Regions from separate parts of the Homo sapiens genome. Here regions 1, 2 and 4 are each linked to region 3. The links come from fine-mapping of genetic effects on gene expression. A gene starts in region 3. Each other region holds a variant in brackets. All regions are shown on one strand. Distances are from middle to middle.

Region 1 (7,347 bases), 38 kb after region 3:
CCTGGGGCGGACACTCACCCATTGACAGCGACCTGGGGGGCGCTTTGCTGTAGGAAGTAAGACAGTCGGGTCAGGCGGGGCCAGGCGGACCGGCCGCGCCCCCGGACTTCCCAGCCTCGGCCCTGCTGTGTCGCTTGGGTCACCTGCCGGCGCCTCCGCTCGTGCTGTAGCTGTTTCTCAACTGGGTCCTCCCAGGCGCGGCTCTGCGGGTCAGTGACCGGCGGCTCCCAGCCGCTGAAGAACTCGGGTCTGTATGGGGGTCCCTCCTCCGGGGACAGCTCCAGCCTGCGGCCAGGGACAGGGCCAAGAGCTCAGGGATCCTGATACAGCCCCCAACTTCGTTCCTGCATTAACTTCACTAAGTTTTCCCCTAAAGCTCGCTGTATTCCAACGATTCTAGCCCCGCCACTTTTCACCAAGTCCTGCCGGTAGCTCTAAGCCCAACTCAACAGCAATTTATATTTCTAGACCGGGCACGGTGGCTCACGCCTGTAATCCCAGCATTTTGGGAGGCCAAGATGGGAGGATCGCTTGAGGCCAGGAGTTCCAGACCAGCCTGGGCAAAATATTGAGACCCCATCCATCTCTCTCTCTGGAAAAAAATTGCCTTATCCAGCCTCTAAATCTCACCTGATTCCAAATCAGGTTTTCCGTAAGGTCGGTTTCAGGTTCTGACCCTTTCCCTGCGGAACTGCCAGCCCGCAGTGCACAGACTCTGTCCCATCACCAAAGTTATAGACCAAACCTTCCAGAAGCCCCGCCCCTTCGCGTAGCCCCGCCCCTGCCCCGTAGCCCCTAGCCCCTCTATTCCTTTAAGCCCCCCTTTTCTTTCAATCCGATTGGTCTGGTGGTCTTAAATCTTTCCTTCACGTTAATTCCTGGCCTTTCCTCCAATTGAATCTTGGCATCTGTCCTAAGCCCCGCCCCAACACAACTAAGCCACGCCTCTAACCCCTCCCTACTCTCCTAGTCCTATTTTCCAATCATCATGCCACCCACCTCCCAGCGCCTTATGCTCCTCCAATCACCATGCCCCCTGCCTCCCAGCCCCGCCCCTCACCCGGGGCGGGTCCACGAGTCCCCCAGCGAGGTCCAGAGCTCGTTTTCACGTGGAGTGACGTTGTCCCGCAGCAGCGCCACGGCATCCGATGTCAGATGCGGCCGCCGCACACTGCTCGCGAACTCCGGCCCCCCCGACGTGTTCACAATCTGTCAGGGGAGCAGGAGGGGCAGGCTGTGCCGCCACACCTTCTACAAGTCGAACCCGATTCCTCCCGCTGCAGGGGGGCCCGAGGGCCTGGGGCGGGTCTCACCATCTGCAGAGGCCCGAAAAGGAAGTGCAACAGCTCCGGAGAGGAGGGGTCGGCGATGTTGCCGCGCAGCCGGGCCTGGGGCGTGGGGAGGGAGGTGGTTGGCGTGGGTGCGGGGACGGGACAGGTTCGTCGTGCCCGCGCCCCGGCCCAGGGGCGGGCGCGTCCTCACCAGCAGGCTGAAGGCGTACTTGATCTTCTGCAGCACGTCGGTGTACTCGGCCTCCGAGGGCGGCTTGGCCCGCAGCGTCAGCAAGCCCTCTGAGGGGAGCAGACGGGCGCGGCGATGGGGACGCGGGGCCAGCACCAGGCAGGCAGAGAGAGGTGGACACCCGGTTAAGATGGCGGTGAGGTCAGCCCTGGCAAGTGGCGGGAGGGGAGAGCCTGGGGAGAGCGGGGACATTTGGAAGAGATCGGGAGGGGGTTCAGATCCCACGCCAGGGTGCCCCTTACCCCCAGCCGCCCGGCGCCGGCTCCTGCGGCCGCGTTCCCGGTGCTCCAGCACCCTGGCCGCCTCCGCCGACTTCTGCAGCCTCGATACAAAGCTCTCTACGTCGTCGAACACGTGGTTCAGGATGTCCTAGGGGACAGAGGAGGGGGACGCTCAGGGCTCCCGAGTTCCAAAACCATCCCCGTCGAAGCCCTGAACCTGAGCACCTATACACTTCCCCAGATCAGGCCACGCCCCAAACACCTGGCCACGCCCCACAACCAAGCCCCGCCCCCGACCCAGCCCCTCTTCCATAACGCAGAAGTCTGACCAGAGAACGCCCGTCCCGCAGCCGGCCCCGCCCTTCCACGCCCTAGCCCCGCCTCCAGTCGCCTGGCCCTGCCCCCAGACCCCTTCCTTAGCGGCTCACCACTTCCCGCTCCGCCTGCAGAACCGCCAGGTCAGGACCCCGGGGACCCAGGTCCGGGGAGGCCGAGTCAGCGTTGCTCGAGGTCCCCACCGGCTCAGGCCTCTGCGCCTCCTCTGCCTCGGGAATGGGCTTCGCCTGGGGTCGTCCGCGGCCCGCGCCCCGCTCTACGGTGCTGATCACTGCGCGGACTGACGGGCGGCGCTGCAGGGGCGGGGTCTCAGCGGCGGGCGAGCGGTCGCGCTGCAACTCCTCCTGCGTGGCCCTGCGGAGGGCGACGGGGACACCAAGACTGGGTCCACTGAGGGGTCCAGGGAGGGGGAAATCCAGGGCGCAGAACGAGACACACAGGCTCAAAAGGCTCAAAGGGAGTGAACAAGTTCAACGAGGTAGGGAGAAATCCGATATACGGAGGGATAGCACCTCTCTAGAGTGAAACTGAGGGCCTGGACAGGGAACAGAGAAAAGAAGCAGAGTTCTGGAGAAGGGGTCAGCTCGTCTGGGAGGTACAGACAAGACTCGACTAGGGTGTGCTTGACTCCATGCAAAACTCTTGTTCTGTTCCAGGCTGGTGTTGTAGACTGAGGCACAAGGAGGGGAAACCGGCTTCCCAGAGACCCTGCCAACTTCTTCCCTCTCACCTGAGCGCCGCCGCCCTGCGCTCCCCGCGGCCCGAGCGGTAATTGTGCAGAGCCCCCTGGATGTCCTCTCGGATCAGCTCCGCCTGCCAATCACACCGTCAGGCCACGCCTCCCCACGCCGCACCCACTTCCTACCCGGGCCTCGCCCCTGGCCGATTTTTCAGCTCAGTCCCAGCCCACGTGCGGCTACCGTTCACACCTGTGAACCCACGCACGTCCACGCCCCGAACTCACCCCTCGCCCTACACCTGTCCCTGCCCTAAGCCACGACCCCGCCCATGGAGACCCAGTCCGGGTGGTTCCTCGCCCCCACCTCGTCCTGGCTGCTCCCCCAGATCCTTCTTGGCCATGTTCTGTTCATGTCCTCATCCCACCTTCATGTTCTATCTTGACCCTGGGTCCAATCTCAAACCCCACTGCCTTCCAGAACTTCCTTCCCAGGTCCCCTGCCCTTCCTTGCTCTGATCCCGCCTTAGCCCCAGGCCCCGCCCCACCTAGAGGCCCCACCCATTTCCGCCCCGGCTCCAGGCTCCGCCCAGTTCCAGCTCCACCCCCAGAGCCAGCCCATCTGCTCACCCCGAGGCGCAGGCCCTGGAAGAAGTGCACGTCGGGCTGCGCGCGCTCGGGTTCCTGGCACACGAGCAGCAGCAACGAGCGGCTCCTGCCGGGTGGCATCACCGCGTCACAGCGCACGATGGCGCCCAGTGGGTACGACTCCAGCTCCTCCTGCCGGGTGGGATGGCGGGGTAAACTGAGGCCCCGAAATGATGGTACTACTAAATGGCGACGGGAGTGTGGGCCAGCAGGTCAGGGCAACCTCAGGCGGTTAGGGGGTTAGGGATAACAGCCCTGTTTAATAGATGAGGCTATTAAGGCTCAAGAAGGGGGCTGGGGTCCCTCGCCAGAGTTCCCAGAGGAAGGACGTGCAGGAGCCAAGATTCACACCCAGACCCCCTGAAGTCCCTGCCCCAGACACTCCTCCCACCCACGTGCCCCCCGGCACCTTGGAGGCCGGGTCGAGCAGCGTGACATGGTCGGGAGACACTCGCAGCAGCATCTCCTGTGCCCAGACTCGGCCCTGGCTATCCATGACGGCCAACTTCCTGGAGGCATCCTCCACGGTATGCACGCCATCGTCCTCACCCAGGCAGAACGTCACCAGGTGCTGGTACGGACCATGGAGAAAGCAGTGAGGCCCAAGATGATGCCAGGTGGGCTCAGAATCCCCCAGAATAATCAGACTTTCAGCCTGAGACTAACCACACCTCCTCCAGGAAGCCTTCCTTGATCACCTGTTCCACAAATCAGCTCCTCCTCCCAGTGCCCTTTGTTTCCCTTTCATCAGAGTGACTAGCACCTGAGTCTGGCTTCTCACAGACTGGAGGCTCCTTGCGGGCAGGGAAGGAGTCTGGATTATAGCTCTCTCCTTCTAAATGCCTCCTCGGGTCTCCTGCCATGCCCCCTGCCACCTCCATTAGAGCACCAGGCGCCTCTGTGGATTCCTCTGGACCTTGTCTACCCCTTCCTCATGCAGGGCTGTGTCTTGATTTGCCTCCGTGGTCCCACTGTCCAGCACAACAGCTGGCCTGGAGGAAAGGCTGGCAGATTAAGTGGACCCGAGGC[C/T]CCTGGCTTCATATCCATGACTGAGGTGAGGCAACGGAGGTCCATTTTATGGATGGGCAAACTGACTTTCCACATGCTTCCTGCTTGGGGGCCTAGCTGCTTTCAAAAGCCCTATCTCCTGAGGCCACCTTTGCCCCAGAAGATGTCCTGGGGGAACACAGACCCCAGACTCACATTGACTGGGTACTGGGATACATCAGCCATAACAACTGTGGAGTAACGCTTCCTCTGCTCTGCCAGGGGAGAAAGAGAATGAGCCTGGGAGTCCAGGCCCAGCCCCTCCTCCATCAGACCCAGGAGTCCAGGCCCCCAGCCCCTCCTCCCTCAAACCTAGGAGTCCAGCCCCCCAGCCCCTCTTCCCTCTGACCCAGGAGTCCAGGCCCCCAGCCCCTCCTCCCTCAAACCCAGGAGTCCAGGCCCCCAGCCCCTCTTCCCTCTGACCCAGGAGTCCAGCCCCCCAGCCCCTCCTCCCTCTGACCCAGGAGTCCAGACCCCCAGCCCCTCTTCCCTCTGACCCAGGAGTCCAGGCCCCCAGCCCCTCTTCCCTCTGACCCAGGAGTCCAGGCCCCCAGCCCCTCTTCCCTCTGACCCAGGAGTCCAGCCCCCCAGCCCCTCTTCCCTCTGACTCAGGAGTCCAGACCCCCAGCCCCTCTTCCCTCTGACCCAGGAGTCCAGCCCCCCAGCCCCTCTTCCCTCTGACCCAGGAGTCCAGCCCCCCAGCCCCTCTTCCCTCTGACCCAGGAGTCCAGCCCCCCAGCCCCTCTTCCCTCTGACCCAGGAGTCCAGCCCCCCAGCCCCTCTTCCCTCTGACCCAGGAGTCCAGCCCCCCAGCCCCTCTTCCCTCTGACCCAGGAGTCCAGGCCCCCAGCACCTCTTCCCTCTGACTCAGGAGTCCAGGCCCCCAGCCCCTCCTCCCTCAAACCTAGGAGTCCAGCCCCCCAGCCCCTCTTCCCTCTGACCCAGGAGTCCAGACCCCCAGCACCTCTTCCCTCTGACTCAGGAGTCCAGACCCCCAGCCCCTCCTCCTCCAAGACCCTGGATGCCAGGTCCTGTTTCTTTAGACCCAGTTCTATGGGCCTGGGGCTCCCTTGCCCCCCGCTCACCATAGATAGACTTGGCGCTTGGCTTTGGGGCAGCTTCTGGGCTGGTGAAGAAAAGAGGAATGAGAGAGACTGTGGGACTGGGGGCAGATCCTGTGGAAATGCCAAGCAGGGCAGCAAGGGCTTCATGACGAAGGTAATGGGGAGCGATGGAAGGGTTATTATTATTATTATTATTATTATTATTATTATTATTATTGAGCAGGAGAGCTCAGAGCCAGAGCTGGACTTTAAGAAGACAGGTAGGCTGGGCGCGGTGGCTCACGCCTGTAATCCCAGCACTTTGGGAGGCAGAGGTGGGCGGATCACAAAGTCAAGAGATTGAGACCATCTTGGCCAACATGGTGAAACCCTGTCTCTACTAAAAATACAAAAATTAGCTGGGTGTGGTGGTGGGCGCCTGTAGTGCCAGCTACGTGGGAGGCTGAGGCAGGAGAATCACTTGAACCTGGGAGGCGGAGGTTGCAGTGAGTCCAGATCGTGCCACTGCACTCCAGCCTGGCAGCAGAGTGAGACTCCATCTCAAAAAAAAAAAAAAAAAAAAAAAGACAGGTCAGGTCAGGCGGTGGTGCTGGGTGGTAGGGGAGTGTGATCTCTACCATGGCATAGTCCGGGATTCAAACCCTCTGTCTACTGCCTCCTTGCCATAAGACCTTCAGAAGAGGATTTAATCTCTCCTGCCTCAGTTTTTCTTTCTGTAACGTAGTAACCATCTGGTAGGGCTGTTGGGCAAATTCAGTCAGATGATGCAGGTGAAGTATTTTGAAGCCTCAATAACTGTTATTATCATTCTTAAGATGCTGCCAGGGCTTAGCACACAGAAGTTGCTCAATAAATGGGAATGGTTATAATAGCATTAGTGGTATCTGAAGTAGACAGGGAATTATCTGCTTCCCCTCCCACTCCCATGGGCCAGGTGCTTCCCAACCACATCCTTCTCTGTCTCCTCCCGTCCTCAATTTCTTCCTAAGATTACCTTTCCTAAGAATTCTTGAATCCCCACTTGCATGCACATAACAGAAGCTCAGCGATCAGGTGGCGTCAGGGGAACTGAAAAACCCTTTTTCCCAAACTCCTGTTCCTCATCCTGCTCCTGCCAGTCTGATGTCACCACAATTTGATTACCTCTGGGCCAGAGAGCTCACTACCTACCATGCAGGTATTTTGACTCATCTCTCATTGTTTTTCTCCCTGCTTACTCTGGGGGACTTGAGTCTTCATTATAAACAGCCCTGATTTTCTAGCAAAGGGTTAATATTTACTAACAACATAACAATCGCAATAGCGACTCCTATGAGTTGAGCACCTGCTGTCAGTGAGGTGGTCAGCTAAGTCCTGTAATGCACTATCCCTCCAATTTTTCAACATTGTCCCTGTGTCACAGAGGAGGGGCTGAGGCTCCAGGAGGTGATGTCCTCTGACCAGGGTTACATCAGCACTGAGTGTGAGGGCCGAACTGGAGCTCAGGCCTGTCTGCTCTGCAGTGGGGGCCCCTAACCCCAGGCTGGGCAGGGAGGAGAGAGGCTCTGGCTTCCTCCTGAGTGTCGGGGCTTGGGCCAGAGTCTGGGCCGCCGCAAACAGTCTGGGCTGCCGCAAGCGGGTGTGGGTGAGGAGGCGAGGGGAGGCGGGAGGCGTGCTGGGGCTGGGACCTGGGGTCCGGGGGCGCTTACCCTGTGGCGGTGCTCATGGTGCTGAGTGGTAGCTCCTGCCCACCTGGAGGTGCCCTGGGAGCCAGCAAACATGTGAAGGCCTGGCCAGTAGGAGCCTCTAATTCCTACCCCAGCCTCCTCCCTCAATGCAGGCATCCAGGCCCCAG
Region 2 (7,183 bases), 50 kb after region 3:
CCCTTACGCTTCTCTTTCTTTGGCTTCTGCAATTCTGTGTTCTCATCACATTCATGCCACAAGTATTTTCTGTGCTTGACTGTACCTGAGTTGGGGTTTGAGGGAAGGAGCAGACCCCTTGCCCCATTGACAGGAGAAAACAGAGGCTCAGAGAGGGAAGTCAGTAGCCTAAGGTTACAGTGGCCCTGGGCTGTGACACAGATGCAGATCTGACTGGGCCTGGGCTCATTTCTTCATGAACAAGGGGAGAAAACTATCTCATAGAAGCATTTGGTATGGGTCCGAGGCCTTTGGGTCTGAGGGAGGAGGGGCTGGGGTCTGGACTCTTGGGTCTGAGGGAGGAGGGGCTGGGGGCCTGGACTCCTGGGTCTGAGGGAGGAGGGGCTATCTCATTGCTTTGGGGGTGGCGCAGGCGGCCCTCCAGGCCATGGTCTGGAGCAGCAGGTGAGACCGAAACCCGAGCCTCCACCCAAGTCCCAAGTCCCAGGGCCCAGGGCCTCTTTCCTCCTTCTCTGGCCGCAAAGGAGGCCCCTCCCTCTCTGTAACCCACAGCAAATGCCTCCCAAATACCAGTCAAAGTGTCCACCCCTGCACAGTCTGACTCAGCCAGTCCAGGGCGGAGGCAGTAAAGCCCTGTCTTGGCAAGTCACCAGGGAAATCCATCACCGAAGCACCTCTCTCCCCCCTCGGCCTGGCTATTCTGTCATTGGCACCTGTTCTTGGGTGAGTGACAGGGCTCTGTGGTCAGGGTTTGCCTCTGTCCCAGTCTGGGATAGCTGTCTTGGGGGGCTGGCCTTTCTTCCCTCTCACCTGGGATGTCCCAGGAACGGAACAGAATTCTCCCCTGGGGCTTGAAGAGCTCACCCCCCATCTCCTCCGTTATCCCCACCCCCACACCACCCAACACACATCCTCTAGTCTGTAGGATTTGCTGACAAATTCCTATGACAGCCGGATGTGGTGCCTCACACCTGTTACCCAGCATTTTGGGAGGCCATCACTTGAGATCAGGAGTTCGAGACCAGCTTAGCCAACATGGTGAAACCCCATCTCTACAAAAGTAGCTGGGTGTGGTGGCGTGCGCTTGTAGTCCCAGCTACTAGGGAGACTGAGGCAGGAGAATCACTTGAACCCGGGAGGCAGAGGTTGCAGCGAGCCATTGCGCCATGCACTCCAGGCTGGGTGACTGACTGAGATTCTGACTCAAAAAAAAAAAAAAATCCTATGACAAGGAGAAAGGTCAGATTCCCTGGCAATGGGAGCTGAGGCATGTTCTTGAGAAGGAGGGAGGTTATAAATTAGATGGGGCTGGGTCTCAGAGAGATATAGCTACTTACATATTAAATAATGAGGCTGAGTGTGGCGTCTCACACCTATAGTCCCAGTACTTTGGGAAGCAGAGGCAGGAGGATCCCTTGAGCCTAGGAGTTTGAAACCAGCCTGGGCAACATAGGGAGATTCCATCCCTACCAAAAAAAAAATTAAAAATTAGCCAGGCATAGTGGCCTGCATCTGTGGTCCTAGCTGCTTGGGAGGCTGAGGTGGGAGGATTGCTTGAACCTGGGAGGTCAAGGTACAGTGAGCCACGATTGCACCACTGCACTCCAGCCTGGGTGACAGAGCAAGACCTTGTCTCAAAAAAAGTAATTAATTTATTTATTCAATACGTAGCTCCTGAGACAAAATGTGTGCCGTACTCTAGACCCTGCTGGTGTGCACAATTCATGGGGGATATGTGCGCTAATGGAAGTGTGGCACAGGGCAAGGGTGTCCCCAGAGAAAGCCCTAATCCAGCTTTATGGGTGGTTGTATGAGGCACAGAAGCCTTTCCTGGTTAAGGGATAAATGGATGGGGTTTCAAAGGATGAATAGGAGTTTGCCAAGGACAATGAAGCAAAGATTGACATTCTAAGCATTGGGAGTGTCCTATGCAAAATCCCAAAGTGATGTAGTAGCAAATACTTAAGCACCTACAGTGTGCCAAGCATGTTTCATGTGCTGGAGATACAGAGGAGGAGGAGACAGATGAAACCCCAGCCCTTGTGATATTGTCATCCTAGTAGGTGTGGTGGGGAGATAAACAAGTAGACACCTGCATGAATAAGACTTTCAGATTGTGGTAAACCCTGTGGAGGAAACGAAACAGGTGAAGGAACGGCGTGAC[T/C]AGGAGCAGGCAGGTGCGGCTGCTTCAGGTAGGGTGGTCAGGGAAGGAGGCGGCATCTGAGCTTTGACCTCAATTTCGAGAATGAGCCAGGAATGCAGAGAGGATTTCAGGCAGAGGAAACCTTAGGGAGGCTGGCGGGTTAAATCTGCAGGGGTGTGGCTGGCCGGAGGAAGTGAGGTGTGAGACAGTCACGTTGATGGTGACAGCAGCAGTGACCGTAGCAGCCTAGAGGTGGCCGAATGCTTACTCTAATGGGCTGGCCCATCCCTGAGTGTCTAGAGTTCCCAGCCCGCTTAAGGAAGGAAGGAAAACACAGGCAGCTCTAAGTGTACGACGAGGGAGGTCTCATCGGCGGTGAGGAAGCCCAGGCGGGTCCCCTTCCCAGCTGAAAGGGGTTCGGGTAGGTTTTTCCTGGGCGTTCCTCTGAGAACAGCCAGCCCTGGTGAGAGTGCGGGGAGAGGCGCTTATGACACAGGGAGGGTGGGTCTGGGAACCAGCCTGGCAGGAGGAGGAGGGAGACTGCCGGTGGCCGGGAGCTGTTTGTTCTCTGGGAGGGATCGTGGCGGGGTGGTTTGTGCAGCCCTTTCCTGAAACCGGAGGAGCCTGGCTCCTTCCCAGGTCTCTGGGGGATGGGTCGGGGCGGGGGGTGGTGACGGGGATAGGACCCCAGACAGACTTGAGTTTGGATCCTGGGTTGGAGCCGGTGACTTCACTCTCAGCTCCCTGAACATCAGGGCCTGCCTTTCTTCCCTCCCTTCCCCTCCCCTCCCCTCCCCTTCCTTCCTTCCTTCCTTCCTTCCTTCCTTCCTTCCTTCCTTCCTTCCCTTCCTTTCCCTTCCCTCCCTCCCTTTATTCTTTTCTTTTTTTCTTTTCTTTTCTTTCTTTCTTGACAGAGTCTTGCTCTGTCGCCCAGGCTGGAGTGCAGTGGCGCGATCTCGGCTCACTGCAAGCTCCGCCTCCCGGGTTCACGCCATTCTCCTGCCTCAGCCTCCCGAGTAGCTGGGACTACAGGCACCCGCCACCGTGCCTGGCTAATTTTTTTGTATTTTTAATAGAGACGGGGTTTCACTGTGTTAGCCAGGATGGTCTCGATCTCCTGACCTCGTGATCTGCATGCCTCGGCCTCCCAAAGTGCTGGGATTACAGGCCTGAGCCACAGTGCCCGGCCTCCTCTTTCTTTTTTTGAGACAGAATCTCACTCTGTCACCCAGGCTGGAGTGCAGAGGTGTGGTCTCGGCTCACTGCAACTTCCGCCTCCCAGGCTCAAGCGATTCTCCTGCCTCAGCCTTCCGAGTAGCTGGGACTACAGGCGCGTGCCACCATGCCCAGCTAATTTTTTGGTACTTGTAGTAGAGACAGGGTTTCACCATGTTGGCCAGGCTGGTTTCAAACCCCTAATCTCCAGTGATCTGCCTGCCTTGGCCTCTCAAAGTGCTGGGATTAAAGGCGTGAGCTACCGTGCCAGGCCGTGGAGTAGCTAAACTTATCTTACACTGCTGAGGTCTCTCAAGATGTGTGTAGGGAGAGAGAGTTGGGGGGAGAGAGAGAGACAAAGGAAAAGAGGAAGAGAGAGACAGGGAGAAAGAGAGGAAGAAAGAGAAAGAGAGAAACAGGAAGAGTGAGAGGAGAAAGAGAGGAAGGGGGAGAGAAAGAGAGATGGGGGAGAAAGAGAGAGAGAGAAGGAGACACAGGAGGGGGAGAGAAAGAGGGAGAGAGCAATGAGAGAGATATGAGACAGAGAAGAGAGAGAGAGGAGACACGGAGGAGGGGGACAGAAAGAGGGAGACAGAGAGATGAGAGAGAGAAAAGACACAGATGAGGGGGAGAGAAAGAGGGAGAGAGAGATGAGAGAGAGATTGATAGCACCCAGCTAATCAATCAGTGGCTTTAGTGCCATGAGCTGGAAGGGAGGAATGGATACTGGGGAACAGTTGGTTGACTTTCCCTGGTGGGACAGCCCCTCTTTCTAGAACTACCTTTCCTATGTCCCCTGTGCTTCTCTCCAGTCCATACTCTACATCTCAGCCAGAAAAGAAGAAATTCTAAAACATGTATCTGCCCGTGACATGACCCTCCTTGGCTCAACACTCTTCAGCGGTACCCAGCGCCCTCTGAGTCAACGCCAAGCTTCCTACCATGGCATTGGAGCCGCGCTCTGGGTCCTTTTACTGATGGCTCCCGCCTCAGCCCTTCCACCCCCTCCCATACCCTGCATGCCAGCCCAGGCAGCCCTCCCTCCTCCCACAATATCTCTCATATGCATTCCTGTCCCATGCCTTCTGCTTAAGCTGTTCCCACAGCCCGGAGTCTCCTCCCTGGCTGAGGGAAATCTTGCCGGCTCACATGGCCGTGATCCCCATCATTTCCTGCAGAAAGCTTGCCCAGCTCTCCGACACGGGGACCTTCTGCCCCTCCTGAGCCCTGAGTCCCCTCCATCTTAACTGGGAGGTCACCTGTTTGCGTGGTGTCTGCTCAGCTTGCAGGCAAGGCCACCAACACCCTCCTTTCCTGTCTTTCCTTCCTACCATCCTCTCCTGTCCACCCTCTGCCTCTCCCTCCCTTCTTCTCTTCTTTCCTTCTAGTTACTGAGCCATGCATGTGTTGCATGCAGCAAGGATGAATAAAATAAAATAAACCTACAGCAATCATTCCAGTTACTATGGCCATATAACAAATTATTCTAAAACTCAGTGGCTTCAGACAAGGATCATATCTATTTTACTCAAAAACCTACCATCTGCACAGGCCTTGGTGGAGGCAGCTTATCTGTGTGCCCTTTGGTGATGGCTGGGGCTGTCAAGAAGCTGGGGCAGTGCTTGGGCTGCAAAGACTCAAATGGCTGGAGTCTGGGACCACTGGAGCTCCTTGCCCCCCTTTGCTTATCTCTACACAGCCACAGGGTCGCTAAACTTACCTTACACTGCTGAGGCCTCTTAAGATGTGTGTAGGGAAAGAGAGTTGGGGGGAGAGGGAGAGAGAGAACAGAGAGAGAGAGACACACACAAGAAGAGAGAGAGGAAGAAAGAAGGAGAGAGAGGAAGAGGAAGGGAGAGGAAGAGAGAGAGAAAGAGAAAGAGGGAGAGAGAGAGGAGAGAAAGAGACAAGAAGAGAGGAAGAAAAAAGAGGAAGAGAGGGATAGAGGAAGACAGAAGGAGGGAGAGGGAGAGAGGAAGAGAGAGGAAAGAGAAAGGAAGGGAAAGAGAGATGTGAGAGAGAGGGAGAGAGAGAGAGAAAAGAGGACAGAGGAAGAGAGAGAGGAAGAGAGAGGGAGAGAGAGGGAGAGAAGACAGAGAGGGAGAGAGGAAGAGAAAAGGAGACAGAGAGAGGAGAGATAGAGAAGAACGAGAAAGGAGAGACAGAATGTGAATGAGAATTGGGTGCCATAAACCCTCTGATGGGGAAAGCAAAGGGCATTGTGGGAGAATCCTCTCAGCACCTGGGACAGCACCCAGTGCTGATCAGGAACATGTTAACAACCAGGAAAATGGTAAAGGCGTGGACAGCCCACCTGGAGTCCAAACAGATGTTCTAACTCCCTTGGGTGTGTCTGGGAATCAGGTAGGAGATCCTCAGAGGAGGAATATGCATGCATTGTTCTCTTTATAATAACCATATTAACAGCCAGCAATGTTCTGGCACTTACTATGGATTAAGTCCTTGTTATGAATGACTTCATGCCATCCTTCCAAATTCAATGACAGGTAGCTGGGCGCAGTGGCTCACGCTTTGTAATCCCAGCACTTTGGGAGGCTGAGGCAGGTGGATCACCTGAAGCCTGGAGTTCAAAACCAGCCTGGCCAACATGGTGAAACCCCGTCTCTACTAAAAATACAAAAATCAGCCAGGTGTGGCGGCGAGCGCCTGTAATCCCAGCTACTCATGAGGCTGAGGCAGGAGAATCGCTTGAACCCAGGAGGCAGAGGTTGCAGTGAGCTGAGATTGCATCACTGCGCTCCAGCCTGGGCATCGGAGAGAGACTCTCAAACAGGAGCTGGCGAACTGTGGCGCACTGCTTATTTTTATAAATAAAGTTTTATGGGAACACAGCTGTGCTCACTTGTTTTCACATCATCTGTGGCTGCTTCCCAGCTCCTCTGGCAGAGGAGGTGCAACAGCCACTGTGTGGATCACAAAGCTGAAATTATTTACTATCTGGCTGTTTGTAGAAAAAGTTTGCTGATCTCTGTCCTGGAAGTCAATGATATTAGGATTTCAGTTTACAGAAAAGGAGAAAAAGACAGGGAAAAACAGTGTTGTTTTTTTTTCAAGGTTGAGAAAATGAACATCTGAACCAATTGCCCATGTTATTAAATGTAAACATTTATTATTATTATTTTTGAGATGGGGTCTTGCTCTGTCACCCAGCCTGGGGTGCAGTGGCACAATCACAGCTCATCATAGCCTTGACCTCCTGGGCTCAAGCAGACCTCCCACCTCAGCCTCCCAAGTAGCTGAGGGTGCAGATGCGTGCCACCAAACCTGCTAATTTTTGTATTTTTTGTAGAGATAAGGTTTTGCCGTGTTGTCCAGGCCGCTCTCAAACTCCTGGGCTCATACTATTCTCCACTTTGGCCTCCCAAAGTGCTGGGATTACAGGCATGAGCCACCATGCCCAGTCTAAAATTTTTCTTTATTTTTAGTTTGGTAAACTATGCATAAAGTAAAATGTACCATCTTAACCATTTTAAGTGTACAATTCAGTGATGTTAAGTATATTCACATTGTTGTGCAACCATCACCACCGTCCACCTTCAGGTCTTTTTTTTATTTTGCAAAACAAACTCTGTATCTATTAAAAAACAGCTTCCCGGCCGGGTGCGGTGGCTCATGCCTGTAATCCCAGCACTTTGGGTGGCCGAGGCAGGTGGATCACCTGAGGTCAGGAGTTTGAGACCAACCTGGCCAACATGGTGAAACCCCGTCTCTACTAAAAATACAAAAATTAGCCGGGTGTGGTGACACGTGCCTGTAGCCCCAGCTACTCGGGAGGCTGAGGCAGGAGAATCGCTTGAACCTAGG
Region 3 (7,600 bases):
TGGGAGACAGAGCGAGACTCCGTCTCAAAAAAAAAAAAAAAAATTATAGTTTGAGAGTTGGCAAATTGGGCTGGGCTCCGCTGGGAGTTCTTGTCTGGCTGATCTTGGCTGGACTTGCTCATGCATCTGCAGTCTCCTGGTGAATCAACAGGGGCTGGCTGTGGTCATCCCACTAGTGCCTCTTCATGTTCCCGCAGCTGGACCCAGATCCCTCCTGATTATAATGGCAGTGCTAAACTAACAGTGTCATTGAGGAGTTATGTTTGGCTGATAGTAAGAGACAGCTCCCCAAATAACAATAGTTTTGGTGAATTGGAGGTTTGTTTTCTCATATGTAACCTAAAAGACAAGAGGTAGGCAGTCCAGGGAAGGAAAGGCAGATCCCAACTGCCATCAGGAACTGAGGCTTCTAAGGCCAGGTGCAGTGGCTCATGCCTGTAATCCCAGCACTTTGGGAGGCCAAGGCGGGCAGATCATGAGGTCAGGAGTTTGAGACTATCCTGGCCAACATGGTGAAACCCCGTCTCTACTAAAAATACAAGAATTAGCCAGGCGTGGTGGCGTGCACCTGTAGTCCCAAGAGAATCGCTTGAACCCAAGAGGTGGAGGTTGCAGTGAGCTGAGATCATGCCGCTGCACTCCAGCCTGGGTGACAGAGCGAGACTCCATCTCAAAAAAAAAAAAAAAAAAAAGAAATTCCAGTTCTGGATTTGACAGTCCTCAGATTGAACCTTGTCTTGGCCAATTTCTAGCTCTGTGACTGGGGCTAGTCTCTTAGTCTCTGCCTCCTGGAGTTGATGAGATGATGTACATAAAATATCTGATAGGCATGTGATGTTGGCTGTGAGCATCTTCATATGCCACTCAAGAACATCATCTTTTGCTCTTGTCTTCCTGTGGTAAAGGTTTTGTTTTCACTTCTAGGGTCTGCTCTTTGCTCTCAATGGTAACAGTGGAATGTTGGTGCTTAACCTTGGAACTGCAGGCCCTCCTCACTGGTGTAAATAACCTCAGAAAGATAAGAAGAAAATGTTCCCACTTCTTCTGTAACAGCAGAAAAATAGATATTAGTCTGCACCATAAAGATGGTTCAGATAAGCAGGTGAAGTTAGAACATCCACAAAAGTATAAAATTGACTCTTCTGTCCTGTGTGGAGAGGGGTAAGAGTATTATAAGCCCATTCTGATTTCTGTTATTTTACTCTTTTTTGATTGCGCCAGTGCAATCCAGCCTGGGCGATGACAAGAGTGAAACTCCATCTCAAAACAAACAAACAAACAAACAAAAACAAACCATAAACACAAACTCATAAACAACATACATCCAGCCACAGACATGATTGCAAATACACACAATTATACATAAAGGCACAGAATACATACAGAACCAGAGCTACACGGTAACACCCTGAAGACCGACTTCTTGTTTTCCTGGGGGAAGGAGGTTGGTGTGTAAGTATGTGGAAAGTGTGGGGTTCAGGGACCACACCTAAGAGCCACCAGAACTATCCCTTTCTATAGAAACAGGCTTCGTGGCGGATGAAGACCCCATCTTGGGGTTCCACCAGATATTCCTACTAAAGAACATCAGCTGGGTGTGGTGGCTCATGCCTGTAATCCCAGCACTTTGGGAAGCTGAGGCGGGTGGATCACTTGAGGTCAGGAGATCGAGACCAGCCTGGCCAACATGGTGAAACCTTGTCTCTACTAAAAATACAAAAATTAGCCAGGCGTGGAGCACGCCTGTAATCCCAGCTACTTGGGAGGCTGAGGTAGGAGAATCACTTGAACCTGGGAGGCGGAGGTTGCAGTGAGCCGAGATCACATCACTGCACTCCAGCCTGGGCGACACAGTGAGACTCCGTCTCAAAAACAAAACAAAACCAAACAAAACAAAACATCAGCGATGCAATGATGCTTGGGTTTGCACCAATGATATGCAGGCTTGCTCTGCACAACTTCAGCTGACCTCCTCTCCACCGGGCCCTCACGCTGCCTCCTCTTCCCTCCTCTTTCCAGAACTATTGCCACTCCTCCAGATATGATGCACAAATGAGCAGGGTCGCAGTGGGAGTGGGCGCAGTGCGCTGATGCCACGGAGGTGTTGTGCATGACGTCTGGACACTAGACTAGCTGCATGTAATGGGAAAAGTTTGTGTTGTACCAGCGCATGCCTTGGAAAGACTTAAGTAATGCAAAAGGTTGTCCTTTAAAAAAAAAAAAAATCTGGCCGGTCGCGGCGGCTCACGCCTGTAATCCCAGCATTTTGGGAGGCCGAGGCAGTCGGATCACGAGGTCAGGAATTCGAGACCAGCCTGGCCAACATGGTGAAACCCCGTCTCTACTAAAAAACAAAAATTAGCCGGGCGTGGTGGAGCACGCCTGTAGTCCCAGCTACTCAGGAGGCTGAGGCAGGAGAATCGCTTGAACCCGGGAGGCAGAGCTTGCAGTGAGCCGACATCGCGCCACTGCACTCCAGCCTGGGCGACAGAGCAAGCCTCCGTCTCAAAAACAACAACAACAACAAAAAAAAACAAAACTACTGACAAGTTGCTCTACTTAACCCAAAGAAAGTGAAGGAGAAAGCGGCTGCCTCACCGCCTAGACATTGAGTCGCCGGATGTTTCAATGCCTCATGATACAATAAAACCACAAAAATTTTCGTAACAGCAGCAGCAACAACAACAACAAAAGAGAAAGAGAGAGGGAAAGAAACAGGCCTCGTGGGATGCGCAGTTTACGTCTCCGCGCAAACCCAAGGACTTCAGAGTGGGTGGGAAACTCCCACAGCGCTTGGGAAACAGTCTGTAGTCTCTGTCCCGATTTTGGCCCTTTTCTGTATGATTTTTATGGGACTCTTCCTGTCACAAAGTGCCAGCCACCTTCCCAATCTTGAGTTGGGCGCGGGATCCGTAAGGTGAAGATCAAGGTGTGCTCATCGCTTGGGCCCGCTGAAAGGTGATTCGCCCCCCACCTGCTGGAACTCCTTGCCCGGGACCACCAATCCCAGCATGCCTTGAGAGCGCGCGAGGGCCTGGGCGGTTCCCAGGAGGTCCGGGTGGGCGCAGGAGAAGCGCGGGCCAGTGAAAGCTCTGAGAGCCCTGTCCCTGTGGACACTGTGTCTTGGGTTCCTTTACTCGGTGTGGCTCAGGGATTACCATTAGGGAGTGGAGTGTGGATTTCTCTTGCCCCGAGCCCTAAATGCCTTGGGGCCCTGCCTTGCACCCCACTGTGCTTTTAGGGGTGTGGCCCTGTGGGCTACATTTCCCAGCGTGCCCTAGGATCGTGGTCCTGACCTTTTCACCGCAAATTTCATTTCCCAGCATGCCCTGCGAGGTCACCCAGGGAAGCTTGGAAGTGGACTGTCTTTCATGGCTTCTAGGTTGCGGACTCAGTTTCCCATGGTGCCCTGGTGAACCCATTCATTCATTCATTCCAAAAATATTTGCGATCAGGTTCTCTCAGGTTCTGTTCTAAGAACCGAGGACAAGTAGTGCACAGAAGACAAAAGATCCCGCTCTCGTGGAGCTTATTTCTAGTTAAGGGGTCAGGAAAAAAACCAAAATAAATAAAACCCAGCTGGGCATGGTGGCTTACGCTCGTCATCCCAGCAGGATTACAGGCCGAGGCGGGCGGATCATGAGGTCAAGAGATCAAGACCATCATGGCCAACATGGTGAAATCCCGTCTCTACTAAAAATATAAAAATTAGCAGGGCGGGGTGGCGCGCGCCTGTTATCCCAGCTACTCTGGGGACTGAGCCAGAATTGCTTGAACCTGGGAAGCGGAGGTTGCAGCGAGCCGATATCGCGCCACTGAACTCCAGCGTGGCGACAGAGCGAGACTCCGTCTCAAAACAAAGAAAACAAAATAAAACAACAATAACAAAACAACTCTGCCTCTCCCCGCACTCCCTCCCACGCGGCTGTCCAGTCGAATTCCTAACTGCCCCGGGGCAGTCTGCTATTCATCCCCTTTACCCGGTGCTACACACTTCCTAGTATGCCGTGGGGCACCCCTCCGGCCTGTAGACTCCATTTCCCAGCATTCCCCGGAGGAGGCCCTCATCTGGCGATTTCCACTGGGCGCCTCGGAGCTGCGGACTTCCCAGTGTGCATCGGGGCACAGCGACTCCTGGAAGTGGCCAAGGGCCACTTCTGCTAATGGACTCCATTTCCCAGCGCTCCCCGCGACCTGCCCAGCACACCCTGGGGCAGCGCCGTGACGTCAGCACGCCGGGCGGGGACCGGGAGATCCTTGGGGCGGTGGGGGGCCAGCGGCAGTTCCCGGCGGCCCCCGGGGCGGGCGGGCGGGCGGGTGGTGGCGGCGGTTGGGGCTCGGCGCTCGCTCGCTCGCTGGGCGGGCGGGCGGTGCGATGTCCGGAGAGGATGGCCCGGCGGCTGGCCCGGGGGCGGCGGCGGCGGCTGCCCGGGAGCGGCGACGGGAGCAGCTGCGGCAGTGGGGGGCGCGGGCGGGCGCCGAGCCTGGCCCCGGAGAGCGCCGCGCCCGCACCGTCCGCTTCGAGCGCGCCGCCGAGTTCCTGGCGGCCTGTGCGGGCGGCGACCTGGACGAGGCGCGTCTGATGCTGCGCGCCGCCGACCCTGGCCCCGGCGCCGAGCTCGACCCCGCCGCGCCGCCGCCCGCCCGCGCCGTGCTGGACTCCACCAACGCCGACGGTATCAGCGCCCTGCACCAGGTCAGCGCCCCCCGCCCGGCGTCTCCCGGGGCCAGGTCCACCCTCTGCTGCGCCACCTGGGGCATCCTCCTTCCCCGTTGCCAGTCTCGATCCGCCCCGTCGTTCCTGGCCCTGGGCTTTGCCACCCTATGCTGACACCCCGTCCCAGTCCCCCTTACCATTCCCCTTCGACCACCCCACTTCCGAATTGGAGCCGCTTCAACTGGCCCTGGGCTTAGCCACTCTGTGCTGACCACTCTGCCCCAGGCCTCCTTACCATTCCCCTTCGACCTACTCTCTTCCGCATTGGAGTCGCTTTAACTGGCCCTGGCTTTGGCAGCCTGTGCTGACCCATGCAGTCCTCCTTACCATCCCTCCCTCGACTTCCCCTCTTCCGATGTTGAGCCCCTCCAGCCGGTCCTGGACTTTGTCTCCTTCCCTGCCCTGCCCTCTCCTGAACCTGAGCCAGCTCCCATAGCTCAGTCTGGTCTATCTGCCTGGCCCTGGCCATTGTCACTTTGCGCTGCCCTCCTCTCGCCCCCGAGTGCCCTTGCTGTGCCGCCGGAACTCTGCCCTCTAACGCTGCCGTCTCTCTCCTGAGTCCGGACCACTTTGAGCTCTACTGGCTTCTGCGCCGCCTCTGGCCCACTGTTTCCCCTTCCCAGGCAGGTCCTGCTTTCTCTGACCTGCATTCTCTCCCCTGGGCCTGTGCCGCTTTCTGTCTGCAGCTTGTGGCCTGGGTCACCTCTACGGCTGGCCCAGATCCTTCCCTGCCGCCTCCTTCAGGTTCCGTCTTCCTCCACTCCCTCTTCCCCTTGCTCTCTGCTGTGTTGCTGCCCAAGGATGCTCTTTCCGGAGCACTTCCTTCTCGGCGCTGCACCACGTGATGTCCTCTGAGCGGATCCTCCCCGTGTCTGGGTCCTCTCCGGGCATCTCTCCTCCCTCACCCAACCCCATGCCGTCTTCACTCGCTGGGTTCCCTTTTCCTTCTCCTTCTGGGGCCTGTGCCATCTCTCGTTTCTTAGGATGGCCTTCTCCGACGGATGTCTCCCTTGCGTCCCGCCTCCCCTTCTTGTAGGCCTGCATCATCACCGTTTTTCTGGACAACCCCAAAGTACCCCGTCTCCCTGGCTTTAGCCACCTCTCCATCCTCTTGCTTTCTTTGCCTGGACACCCCGTTCTCCTGTGGATTCGGGTCACCTCTCACTCCTTTCATTTGGGCAGCTCCCCTACCCCCCTTACCTCTCTAGTCTGTGCTAGCTCTTCCAGCCCCCTGTCATGGCATCTTCCAGGGGTCCGAGAGCTCAGCTAGTCTTCTTCCTCCAACCCGGGCCCCTATGTCCACTTCAGGACAGCATGTTTGCTGCCTCCAGGGATCCTGTGTCCCCGAGCTGGGACCACCTTATATTCCCAGGGCCGGTTAATGTGGCTCTGGTTCTGGGTACTTTTATCTGTCCCCTCCACCCCACAGTGGGGCCACTAGGGACAGGATTGGTGACAGAAAAGCCCCATCCTTAGGCCTCCTCCTTCCTAGTCTCCTGATATTGGGTCTAACCCCCACCTCCTGTTAGGCAGATTCCTTATCTGGTGACACACCCCCATTTCCTGGAGCCATCTCTCTCCTTGCCAGAACCTCTAAGGTTTGCTTACGATGGAGCCAGAGAGGATCCTGGGAGGGAGAGCTTGGCAGGGGGTGGGAGGGAAGGGGGGGATGCGTGACCTGCCCGGTTCTCAGTGGCCACCCTGCGCTACCCTCTCCCAGAACCTGAGCTGCTCTGACGCGGCCGTCTGGTGCGTTTCACTGATCCTGGTGCTGCAGCTTCCTTACACTTCCCAAGAGGAGAAGCAGTTTGGAAAAACAAAATCAGAATAAGTTGGTCCTGAGTTCTAACTTTGGCTCTTCACCTTTCTAGTCCCCAATTTATATTGTTCCTCCGTGCGTCAGTTTTACCTGTGAGATAAGGCCAGTAGCCAGCCCCGTCCTGGCAGGGCTGTGGTGAGGAGGGGGGTGTCCGTGTGGAAAACTCCCTTTGTGAGAATGGTGCGTCCTAGGTGTTCACCAGGTCGTGGCCGCCTCTACTCCCTTTCTCTTTCTCCATCCTTCTTTCCTTAAAGAGTCCCCAGTGCTATCTGGGACATATTCCTCCGCCCAGAGCAGGGTCCCGCTTCCCTAAGGCCCTGCTCTGGGCTTCTGGGTTTGAGTCCTTGGCAAGCCCAGGAGAGGCGCTCAGGCTTCCCTGTCCCCCTTCCTCGTCCACCATCTCATGCCCCTGGCTCTCCTGCCCCTTCCCTACAGGGGTTCCTGGCTCTGCTCTTCAGACTGAGCCCCGTTCCCCTGCATCCCCGTTCCCCTGCATCCCCCTTCCCCTGCATCCCCCAGAGGCCCCAGGCCACCTACTTGGCCTGGACCCCACGAGAGGCCACCCCAGCCCTGTCTACCAGGCTGCCTTTTGGGTGGATTCTCCTCCAACTGTGGGGTGACTGCTTGGCAAACTCACTCTTCGGGGTATCCCAGGAGGCCTGGAGCATTGGGGTGGGCTGGGGTTCAGAGAGGAGGGATTCCCTTCTCAGGTTACGTGGCCAAGAAGCAGGGGAGCTGGGTTTGGGTCAGGTCTGGGTGTGGGGTGACCAGCTTATGCTGTTTGCCCAGGACAGCCTAGTTTTAGCACTGAAACCCTCAGTCCTAGGAAAACAGGGATGGTTGGTCACTGTCTCTGGGTGACTCTTGATTCCCGGCCAGTTTCTCCACCTGGGGCTGTGTTTCTCGTCCTGCATCCTTCTCCAGGCAGGTCCCCAAGCATCGCCCCCCTGCTGTGGCTGTTCCCAAGTTCTTAGGGTACCCCACGTGGGTTTATCAACCACTTGGTGAGGCTGGTACCCTGCCCCCATTCCTGCACCCCAATTGCCTTAGTGGCTAGGGGGTTG
Region 4 (7,600 bases), 120 kb before region 3:
TGGCTCTGGGCTCACCCAGGCTGGGGCCTGTCCCTGTGAGGACCCTGAGGCATGGCCCAGGGCCACACTGCCAAGCCCTGGCAGCTGCCCGTTGGGTAGACTCAGCTCTGCTTATGCTTCTCTCTTTTCTCTCTTTTGTAGCAGCTTTACTGAGATGTAAATTGCACAGCATACCACTCACCCACCGAAGCTTACGATTCAGCGCTTTTAGGGTATTCAAAGCGTTTATCATCTTGTTGAATTTAGATTATTTTTTATCACTCCAAAAAACAAGTCCTGCCTGTAATCCCAGCGCTTTGGCAGGTGAGGCTGGAGGATTGCTTGAGCCCAGGAGTTTGAGACTAGCCTGGGCAACATAGCAAGACGTTGTCGCTACAAAAAATTGAAAAATTAGCTGGCATTGGTGGTGCACACCTGTAATCCTAGCTACTCAAGAGTCTGAGACGGGAGGATCTCTTGGGCCCAGGAGTTCAGGGCTGCAGTGAGCTGTGATGGCACCACTGCGCTCAAGCCTGGGGTGATGTAGAGGCCGTGTCTTTTTTTTGAGACAGTGTCTTGCTCTGTTGCCCAGGCTGGAGTGCAGTGGCGTGATCTTGCCTCACTGTAGCCTTGACCCCCCTGGGCTCAAGCAATCCTCCTGCCTCTGCCTCATGAACAGCTGGAACTAGAGATGCACACCACCATTCTTGGCTAATTTTTTTGTATTTGTAGAGATAGAGTTTTGCTATGTTGCCCCGACTGGTCTCAAACTCCTGGGCTCAAGTGATCCTGCCACCTTGGCCTTTCTTTTTTTTTTTTTTTTTTTGAGATGGAGTCTCGCTCTGTCTAGAGTGCAGTGGCACGATCTCGGCTCACTGCAGCCTCCACCTCCCAGGTTCAAGCGATTCTCCTGCCTCAGCCTCCCGAGTAGCTGGGACTACAGGCGCCTACCACTGCGCCTGGCTAATTTTTTTATTTTTAGTAGAGATGGGGTTTCACCATGTTGGCCAGGCTGGTCTCAAACTCCTGACCTCGTGATCCACCTGCCTCGGCCTCCCAAAGTGCTGGGATTACAGGCGTGAGCCACCGCGCCCGGCCCCACCTCGGCCTTTCAGACTGCTGGGATTATAGGCATGTGCCATCACACCCAGCCGAGACCCTTTCTCCAGAAAAAATAAAAAAGATGCCCTGTGTTCATTAGCAGCTCCTCCTGATCTTCCCCTTTCTCTTCTTAGCCCCCGGCAACCACCAGACTATTCTGTCTCTGTGGATTTGTCTTTGGACATTTCATATAATTGGAATCATGTACTACGTGATCTGTGTGTGGTTTCTTTCTCTAGCATGATGTTTTTGTGGCTCATTCATGTGGTTGCATGTATCAGTTTCACTCCTTTTCCTGGCTGATTAGCACTCTCCTGTGTGGATAGACCAGCTTGGGCATATTCACTCATCAGTCAGAGCCTTCTGGGTCATTGTGGGCGGTGCTGCCAGCCCTGTATGCGGTCATGAGGGCCTTGTGTGGATGCCTCCTGTCCTGGGGAGCCTTCCGGGCTTCCTGTTCTCTCCACCATCTTCCCTCCAGCAGTTGGTGCCTCTGTGCCCTCCTCCTTCGTAACACGTGTCCCTGTGTCTGGGTGACCATTTTTCCCTGGATGGTCAGCTCATGGGAGGGGCTCCCAGCACCAGGCTGCAGAGGGCCCGGTGGCCCGACCAGGATCCTCACCTGTCTCTCCCCGTTCCAGCAACATTCCAACGCATCCCAGTCCCTGTGTGACATCATCCGCCTGAGCCGGGAGCAGATGATCCAAGTCCAGGACAGCCCAGAGCCTGACCAACTGCTGGCCACCCTGGAGAAGTGGGTGTGCGGGCAAGGCTAAGGCTGGGGGGAGCTGACTTGGGGAAGCCCTGGGCCCCTGGCCCCTCACCCTGACCCCTGCCCCTGCCCCCGCAGGCAGGAGACGATTGAGCAGCTCTTAAGCAACATGTTCGAGGGGGAGCAGAGCCAGTCTGTCATCGTCAGTGGGATCCAGGTGCTGCTGACCCTGCTGGAGCCCAGGAGGCCGAGGTGAGGGATACGGGCCACAGACCATGCATGCTGCCCATCCCCAGGGGCTCTCCGGCCCCTCAGAGGCGGGTCTCGGTGTCCACCAAGAGAAATCCCCGCCCGTGGCACCTTGCTCTGTGGCTGCCTGTGCTCCCTGCACAGTGGACAGTACGGGGCCGAGGGAGGAATCTTCTTGTCTGCTTTGACAAGTGAGGGCACTGAGGCTGAGGCCACTGCTGCAGCTTGTGTTGGGAGGGACCCCAGGCCCCCGTGCCCCTGCCTTACCACACAGGCCGCTAGCCTGTTGGGTTTGCCTTCCCGCCTCCACCCCTCACCCGTGCTCTCACAGTGGACTGCCAATGCTGCCGCCTGGCGGGCTCCCCACCCCAGCCAGGTGTTGTCTGAAGGGCCTCAGAAGAGAGCGGCGCTGGGGGCATGTGGCTCCTCGTTTTCCTCCAGACCCTGCAGACGTGGTCCTTGTGCCTACTCCTGTGTGGGCGCACAGGCCATCTAGGCTCACTCCGCCTTCGACCCTGCCCTGCTGCAGGTCCGAGTCCGTGACCGTGAACAGCTTCTTCAGCAGTGTGGATGGGCAGCTGGAGCTCCTGGCCCAGGGGGCCCTGGAAAGCACTGTGTCCAGTGTGGGCGCCTTGCACGCCCTACGCCCGCGGCTCAGCTGCTTCCACCAGCTCCTGCTGGAGCCTCCCAAGGTCAGGGGTGTGGGTTCTGGTCCTCGGGGAGGCGGGGGAAGCAGGAAGGGCAGCCCTTGGGAATCAGGCCTCCCTGTGTCTGCAGCTGGAGCCGCTACAGATGACATGGGGCATGCTGGCTCCGCCTCTGGGCAACACGCGGCTGCACGTGGTCAAGCTCCTGGCCAGTGCCCTGAGCGCCAATGATGCAGCCCTGACGCACGAGCTCCTGGCACTGGACGTGCCCAACACCATGCTGGTGCGGGGACTGGACCGGGCTGGGGGTTCAGGGGCTGGGGCGGGGACTGGACTGGGCTGAGGGTTCGGGGGCTGGGGTGGGGGCTCGGCTGGGGGCTCAGGGGTTGGGGGCTCGGCTGGGGCGGGGCCTCTCTGGTACCAATCCTGTGTCCTCCCATAGGACCTCTTCTTCCATTATGTCTTCAACAACTTCTTGCATGCCCAAGTAGAGGGATGCGTGAGCACCATGCTGAGCTTGGGGCCACCTCCTGACAGCAGCCCTGAGACGCCCATCCAAAACCCTGTTGTGAAACATGTGAGCTGGGACTCCCTGGTCCCCCTCCTTCTGGGCCCATCCCCTGTGGGCGCACCCTCTCCAGAGGCCTACCCCTCACTCCTTCCTCCCACAAGTGTTTGTTGGGTAGTGTTAGGTGCCAGCGCCCAGATGGGGTGTGGGAGGCATGGCCAGGGAGAAACGCGGATGAAACATGCAGGTGCAGGGAGCAGTGGGCTCCTGACTTGAGCTGAAGAGCTAGGGGTGGGCGGGAGCAGACCTGCGAGCAGCTGAGTGTGCATGAGTGCGCACACGTGCGTGTGTGAGCATGTGTCAGTGCAAGCGTGTGTGAGAGCATGTATGTGTGTGAGTGCACACGAGTATGTGAACATGTATGTGTGAGCATGTGTGTGTCCGTTAGTGCATGCATGTGTGTGTGTGTGTGTGTGTGTGTGTGTGTGTGTGTGTGTGTATGCACCACATATTCTTTTGTAGAAAGACCAGAGAGACTTGGGTGGATGCCAGGGTCCCAAGCCCCAGCTTGCATCCCTCCTTCCCATCCCCGTCTCTGGATGAGC[G/A]GGGGCCTGGTGAAGCATCTGCTGAGGAAGGGACCCCTGCTGCAGTGCAGAGCTCCCCACATGTGTGCAGACCACCCCTCCAGGCCATCCTGTCCCGCTCTCCCGCAGCTGCTGCAGCAGTGCCGCCTGGTGGAGCGGATCCTGACGTCCTGGGAGGAGAACGACCGTGTACAGTGAGCACCTGCTGCCCTTCATGTCTCCAGGGGCTGGGGCTGCCTGGATGGGGGGCCGGGCTGGGGCTGGGCATCCCTGGGTCCAGTCCTGGCTTGCAGCCGCGGCCTTCACTCTTGCCAGGTGTGCGGGAGGCCCTCGGAAAGGCTACATGGGTCACCTGACAAGAGTGGCCGGTGCCCTGGTGCAGAACACGGAGAAGGGGCCCAATGCAGAGCAGCTGCGGCAGCTGCTGAAGGGTGAGGGTCCCCAGGCCGGCCTGAGGGCTAGGTGGGGGGCTTGAAGCCCCGAGATGCCTCACGTCTTCACCCCTCTCACCTAAGCAGAGCTGCCCAGCGAGCAGCAGGAGCAGTGGGAAGCCTTCGTATCGGGGCCCCTGGCGGAGACCAACAAGAAGAACATGGTGGACCTGGTGAGGCCCAGCTTCTCTTCCTGCACTCCTCCTGCTGCTTCTCTCTCTTGGGCCAGTCTTAGCCTCCCACCGCCACCGATAGCTGCCTGCCCACCCTGGTCTGGGGGCTCCAGCAGGCCCTGACGCCCCCTCCTCTCCCCAGGTGAACACCCACCACCTACACTCCTCCAGTGACGATGAGGACGACCGGCTCAAGGAGTTCAACTTCCCTGAGGAGGCTGTGCTGCAGCAGGTGGGCGTGGGGCTATGTGGGGCTGTGCTGGGCTATGCTGGAGTGGGGTCCTGCCCAACTCCCTCCAGCCCTAACCTCCGCACCCCCACAGGCCTTCATGGACTTCCAGATGCAGCGCATGACCTCTGCCTTCATTGACCACTTCGGCTTCAATGATGAGGAGTTTGGGGAGCAGGAGGAGAGTGTGAAGTGAGTGTCTCCTGCGCAGGGTCACAGCCCTGTCCTGCCTCTGCAGCAGCAGGCGCGCCTACTTGTATCTGTCCCCTGCACGCACCTACATGCCCTGTGGGCTCAGCCTGCAGCTGTGGCCCCTCCTGGGCACGCGTTGGCCGTGGCCTTGTGTGTGTGTCTGCAGCCTCGTGTGTCTGCCTCCTGTTACATGAGTTCCAGCTCTGCAGTCTCTTCTCTCCGAGAGGCAGGCCATGAGGGTGGGGCACAAACATCTTCTGTGCTGGGGACACAGAGCGGGTCCCTCCCACTCCTGGAGCTAGCCTTAGGGGTTCCAGGCGGGAGGGGCTCAGGGTAGTGGGGACCAGCAGTCCTGGCGCAGGGACTGTGGGGCAGAGCTGCACCTCCATGGATGCCCTCTGGCTCAGGAGTCTGCCAGACATGGGGGTCCAGTTTTCCCCTCCACAGGCCTCGGGGTAACAAAACTTTTTTTTTCCAATTACCAATTCTGCTTGTTTTGATTTGTGGGTCAACCACATCTTAATATCAGTCACCTCTGGGTGTTATGATCATGAACTTTTCTGAGTTTCTTGCCACAAGCATCTGTTGCTTCTGGAGTCAGAAAAAAGTGGCTGGGCGGAGTGGATCACACCTGTGATCCCAGTACTTTGGGAGGCCGAGGCAGGCAGATCACCTGAGGTCAGGAGTTCGAGACTAGCCTGGCCAACATGGCGAAACCCCATCTCTACTAAAAAATACAAAAATTAGCCAGGCGTGGTGGCAGGTGCGTGTAGTCCCAGCTACTTGGGAGGCTGAGTTAGGACAATCGCTTGAACCTGGGAGGCGGAGGTTGCAGTGAGCCGAGATTGTCCCACTGCACTCCAGCCTGGGCAACAGAGCGAGACTCTGTCTTGCTCCCCACGATGAGCTCATTTACGGCCAGGGAGACTGAGGCCCCAGGACATAGCTGGTTAGTGTGTGGGAGCTGGATGGCTGCCCATGGCTGCCCCGGGGTCCCTGTACAGCACAGCGTAAGGGACACCACGATGAGGGATAGTCAGCTGTTCCTGGCTTAGTCCACAGCTGGACAGAGGTCCTCTCAGATGCAGACGTGATATCCTGTGTTGGCTGCTTCTGTGCCCAGCATGGAGACTTGCAGAGCGTTGGTCTTTGTGGGTCAGTGGCCTGTGCCGAGACCCCTGGAGAAGATGCTCAAGTGAAAACTGGGCTGGACACAGTGGCTCACATCTTAATCCCAGCACTTAGGGAGGCCGAGGCAGGAGGATCGCTTGAGTTCAGGAATTTCAGCCCAGCCTGGGCAACATTGTGAGACCATCTCTGCTTTTTTAATTAAAAAAAAAAAGAAGAAAACCCCACCCTGGCAGGAGAATGAAGGGACTGACTGGTAGATGGCATTGGGGTCACCAGCTGCCCCTTTCGGGATGAAACTGTTAGCTTTTCCTCTACCAAGAAAATTCCAGAGGGGTTAAGAAGTTAAGTGAACAAAACTAAACCCAGAAAGATTTCCGGAATGGAAAGTGGATGACTGGTTTGATCATCTCAAGGCTGAAGATGCTGCCCCGCATAGCTCCTGTAGCAGAAGCCAGGTCAGCTGAGGCTGCCAGTGCCACGGGGACATGGGCTGCCCTGCCCTAGACCCACTGTGTGCCCAGCGTGGTCTCTGCTCCGCTGCTTCTCAGTGTCTAGGAGGGACTAAGGACACTTGCCTTGGAAGGTGGTTGTGAGAATGAAGTGCGTGAGTAATGTCTGTCACATACTTAGTGTCCTTTAAGAATTAACTGTCCTTTATCCATTGATCTTTGTGGCAGAATTTTTCATGAATTTGAGACAAATGATCCCTTGAACTGTCCGTAACACGTGGGACAGAATGTGGACCCTGATCATTAGACCCTCGTGGTGAGGGAGGTGGGGCCCTGGCAGGCACAGTTTAAGTTTTGACGTGATTCTTTTTCCCATAATTTAGAATTTCAGCCGCGGACCGTAGACATCTTGAGGTTAGGGGATGTGCTTTATTGGGCTGTAGTCTCACATTCTGCTTGTGCCTGGCTGGTGTGAGTGTCAGCCTCCTACAGATGCCCCAAGGATGGGGACAAGGGCATGGATCTGAATCCCTCTCTGGCACCTGTCCTTGGAAGAGCCTGAGGAGAGTCGCTTAACATTTCCGAGCCCCATTTTCTCACTTCTAGAGCCAAGGGAAACAGCCTACCTCAATGAGTGGTTTTAAGGATTTAAAGTGATCATATGTGAGATGTTGATATTCATGTATGCGTTGCCCCTTAGGACCAGTGGTTCGGGTTGTGTGTGAATTTGCAGATACCAAATCTGCAAGTAATGAGGGTCAGCTCTGTGTTGAGTGAAGAAAGAAATGTGGCCTGTCCTGTGCTGCCCCCACCCCCAGGTGGACCTTCTCACCATGCCTTGCCTTCTCTCCTAGCGCACCTTTTGACAAGACAGCCAACATCACCTTCTCCCTCAATGCTGACGATGAGAACGTGAGTACTGCCCTGTCCCCTGGTTGTGGCGGGTGGAGGGGTGTGGGGCTGTGGGCAGTGTGGCCCATCCTCCCACCCCTGTGCCCTGCAGCCCAACGCCAACCTACTTGAGATATGCTACAAGGACCGCATCCAGCAGTTTGATGATGATGAGGAAGAGGAGGACGAGGAAGAGGCCCAGGGCTCAGGGGAGTCTGATGGAGAAGATGGCGCCTGGCAGGGCAGCCAGCTGGCCAGGGGGGCCCGTCTGGGCCAGCCACCTGGTGTCCGGTGAGTCCCCCTCCAGTTTCCCTTCTCCAAGCT

Which allele goes with the higher level. Alleles are on the strand shown, and positions count from the first base shown. SD is a standard deviation of normalised expression in the study named. Not every link is listed here.
For the expression in fibroblasts of the gene that starts at base 4,282 in region 3, allele A in region 4 goes with a lower level than allele G (large effect, 1.7 SD a copy in GENCORD).

Evidence for each region. PIP is the estimated chance that this variant, and not a neighbour inherited with it, causes the effect.
Region 1: its variant is fine-mapped to the expression of PPP1R12C in whole blood (INTERVAL, PIP above 0.99). The same link has a PIP of 0.9 or more in cerebellum.
Region 2: its variant is fine-mapped to the expression of PPP1R12C in whole blood (TOPMed, PIP above 0.99).
Region 4: its variant is fine-mapped to the expression of PPP1R12C in fibroblasts (GENCORD, PIP 0.95).

What each region holds. Positions count from the first base shown.
Region 1 is chr19:55,076,316-55,083,662 of GRCh38, reverse strand. It overlaps EPS8L1 (EPS8 signaling adaptor L1), which reads right to left. Exons shown (of 20, transcript NM_133180.3): 2 at 7,202-7,255; 3 at 5,535-5,575; 4 at 4,606-4,664; 5 at 3,812-3,973; 6 at 3,385-3,534; 7 at 2,809-2,891; 8 at 2,171-2,432; 9 at 1,764-1,890; 10 at 1,483-1,571; 11 at 1,314-1,388; 12 at 1,061-1,209; 13 at 144-285; 14 at 19-47. The coding sequence starts at 7,218. Among named protein-coding and RNA genes, the nearest start is that of EPS8L1, 4.1 kb to the right of the region's middle. RefSeq lists enhancers at 2,409-3,366, 6,615-7,340. The variant C/T (reference allele first, on the strand shown) is at 4,432.
Region 2 is chr19:55,064,703-55,071,885 of GRCh38, reverse strand. It overlaps a transcript of RDH13 not described here. Among named protein-coding and RNA genes, the nearest start is that of RDH13, 5.1 kb to the right of the region's middle. RefSeq lists a silencer at 5,528-5,728. The variant T/C (reference allele first, on the strand shown) is at 2,165.
Region 3 is chr19:55,114,319-55,121,918 of GRCh38, reverse strand. PPP1R12C (protein phosphatase 1 regulatory subunit 12C) reads left to right here and starts at 4,282. Exons shown (of 22, transcript NM_017607.4): 1 at 4,282-4,696. The coding sequence starts at 4,376. RefSeq lists enhancers at 899-988, 3,927-4,206, 5,167-5,246, 5,647-5,696, 5,051-5,886 and 1 more and silencers at 4,267-4,346, 4,537-4,616, 4,637-4,736.
Region 4 is chr19:55,236,610-55,244,209 of GRCh38, reverse strand. PPP6R1 (protein phosphatase 6 regulatory subunit 1) reads left to right here. Exons shown (of 24, transcript NM_014931.4): 6 at 1,722-1,834; 7 at 1,931-2,044; 8 at 2,571-2,733; 9 at 2,819-2,971; 10 at 3,131-3,265; 11 at 3,910-3,974; 12 at 4,096-4,211; 13 at 4,299-4,384; 14 at 4,527-4,616; 15 at 4,708-4,805; 16 at 7,240-7,297; 17 at 7,389-7,567. It overlaps MIR6802 (microRNA 6802), which reads left to right and starts at 4,234; the gene lies at 4,234-4,298. The variant G/A (reference allele first, on the strand shown) is at 3,802.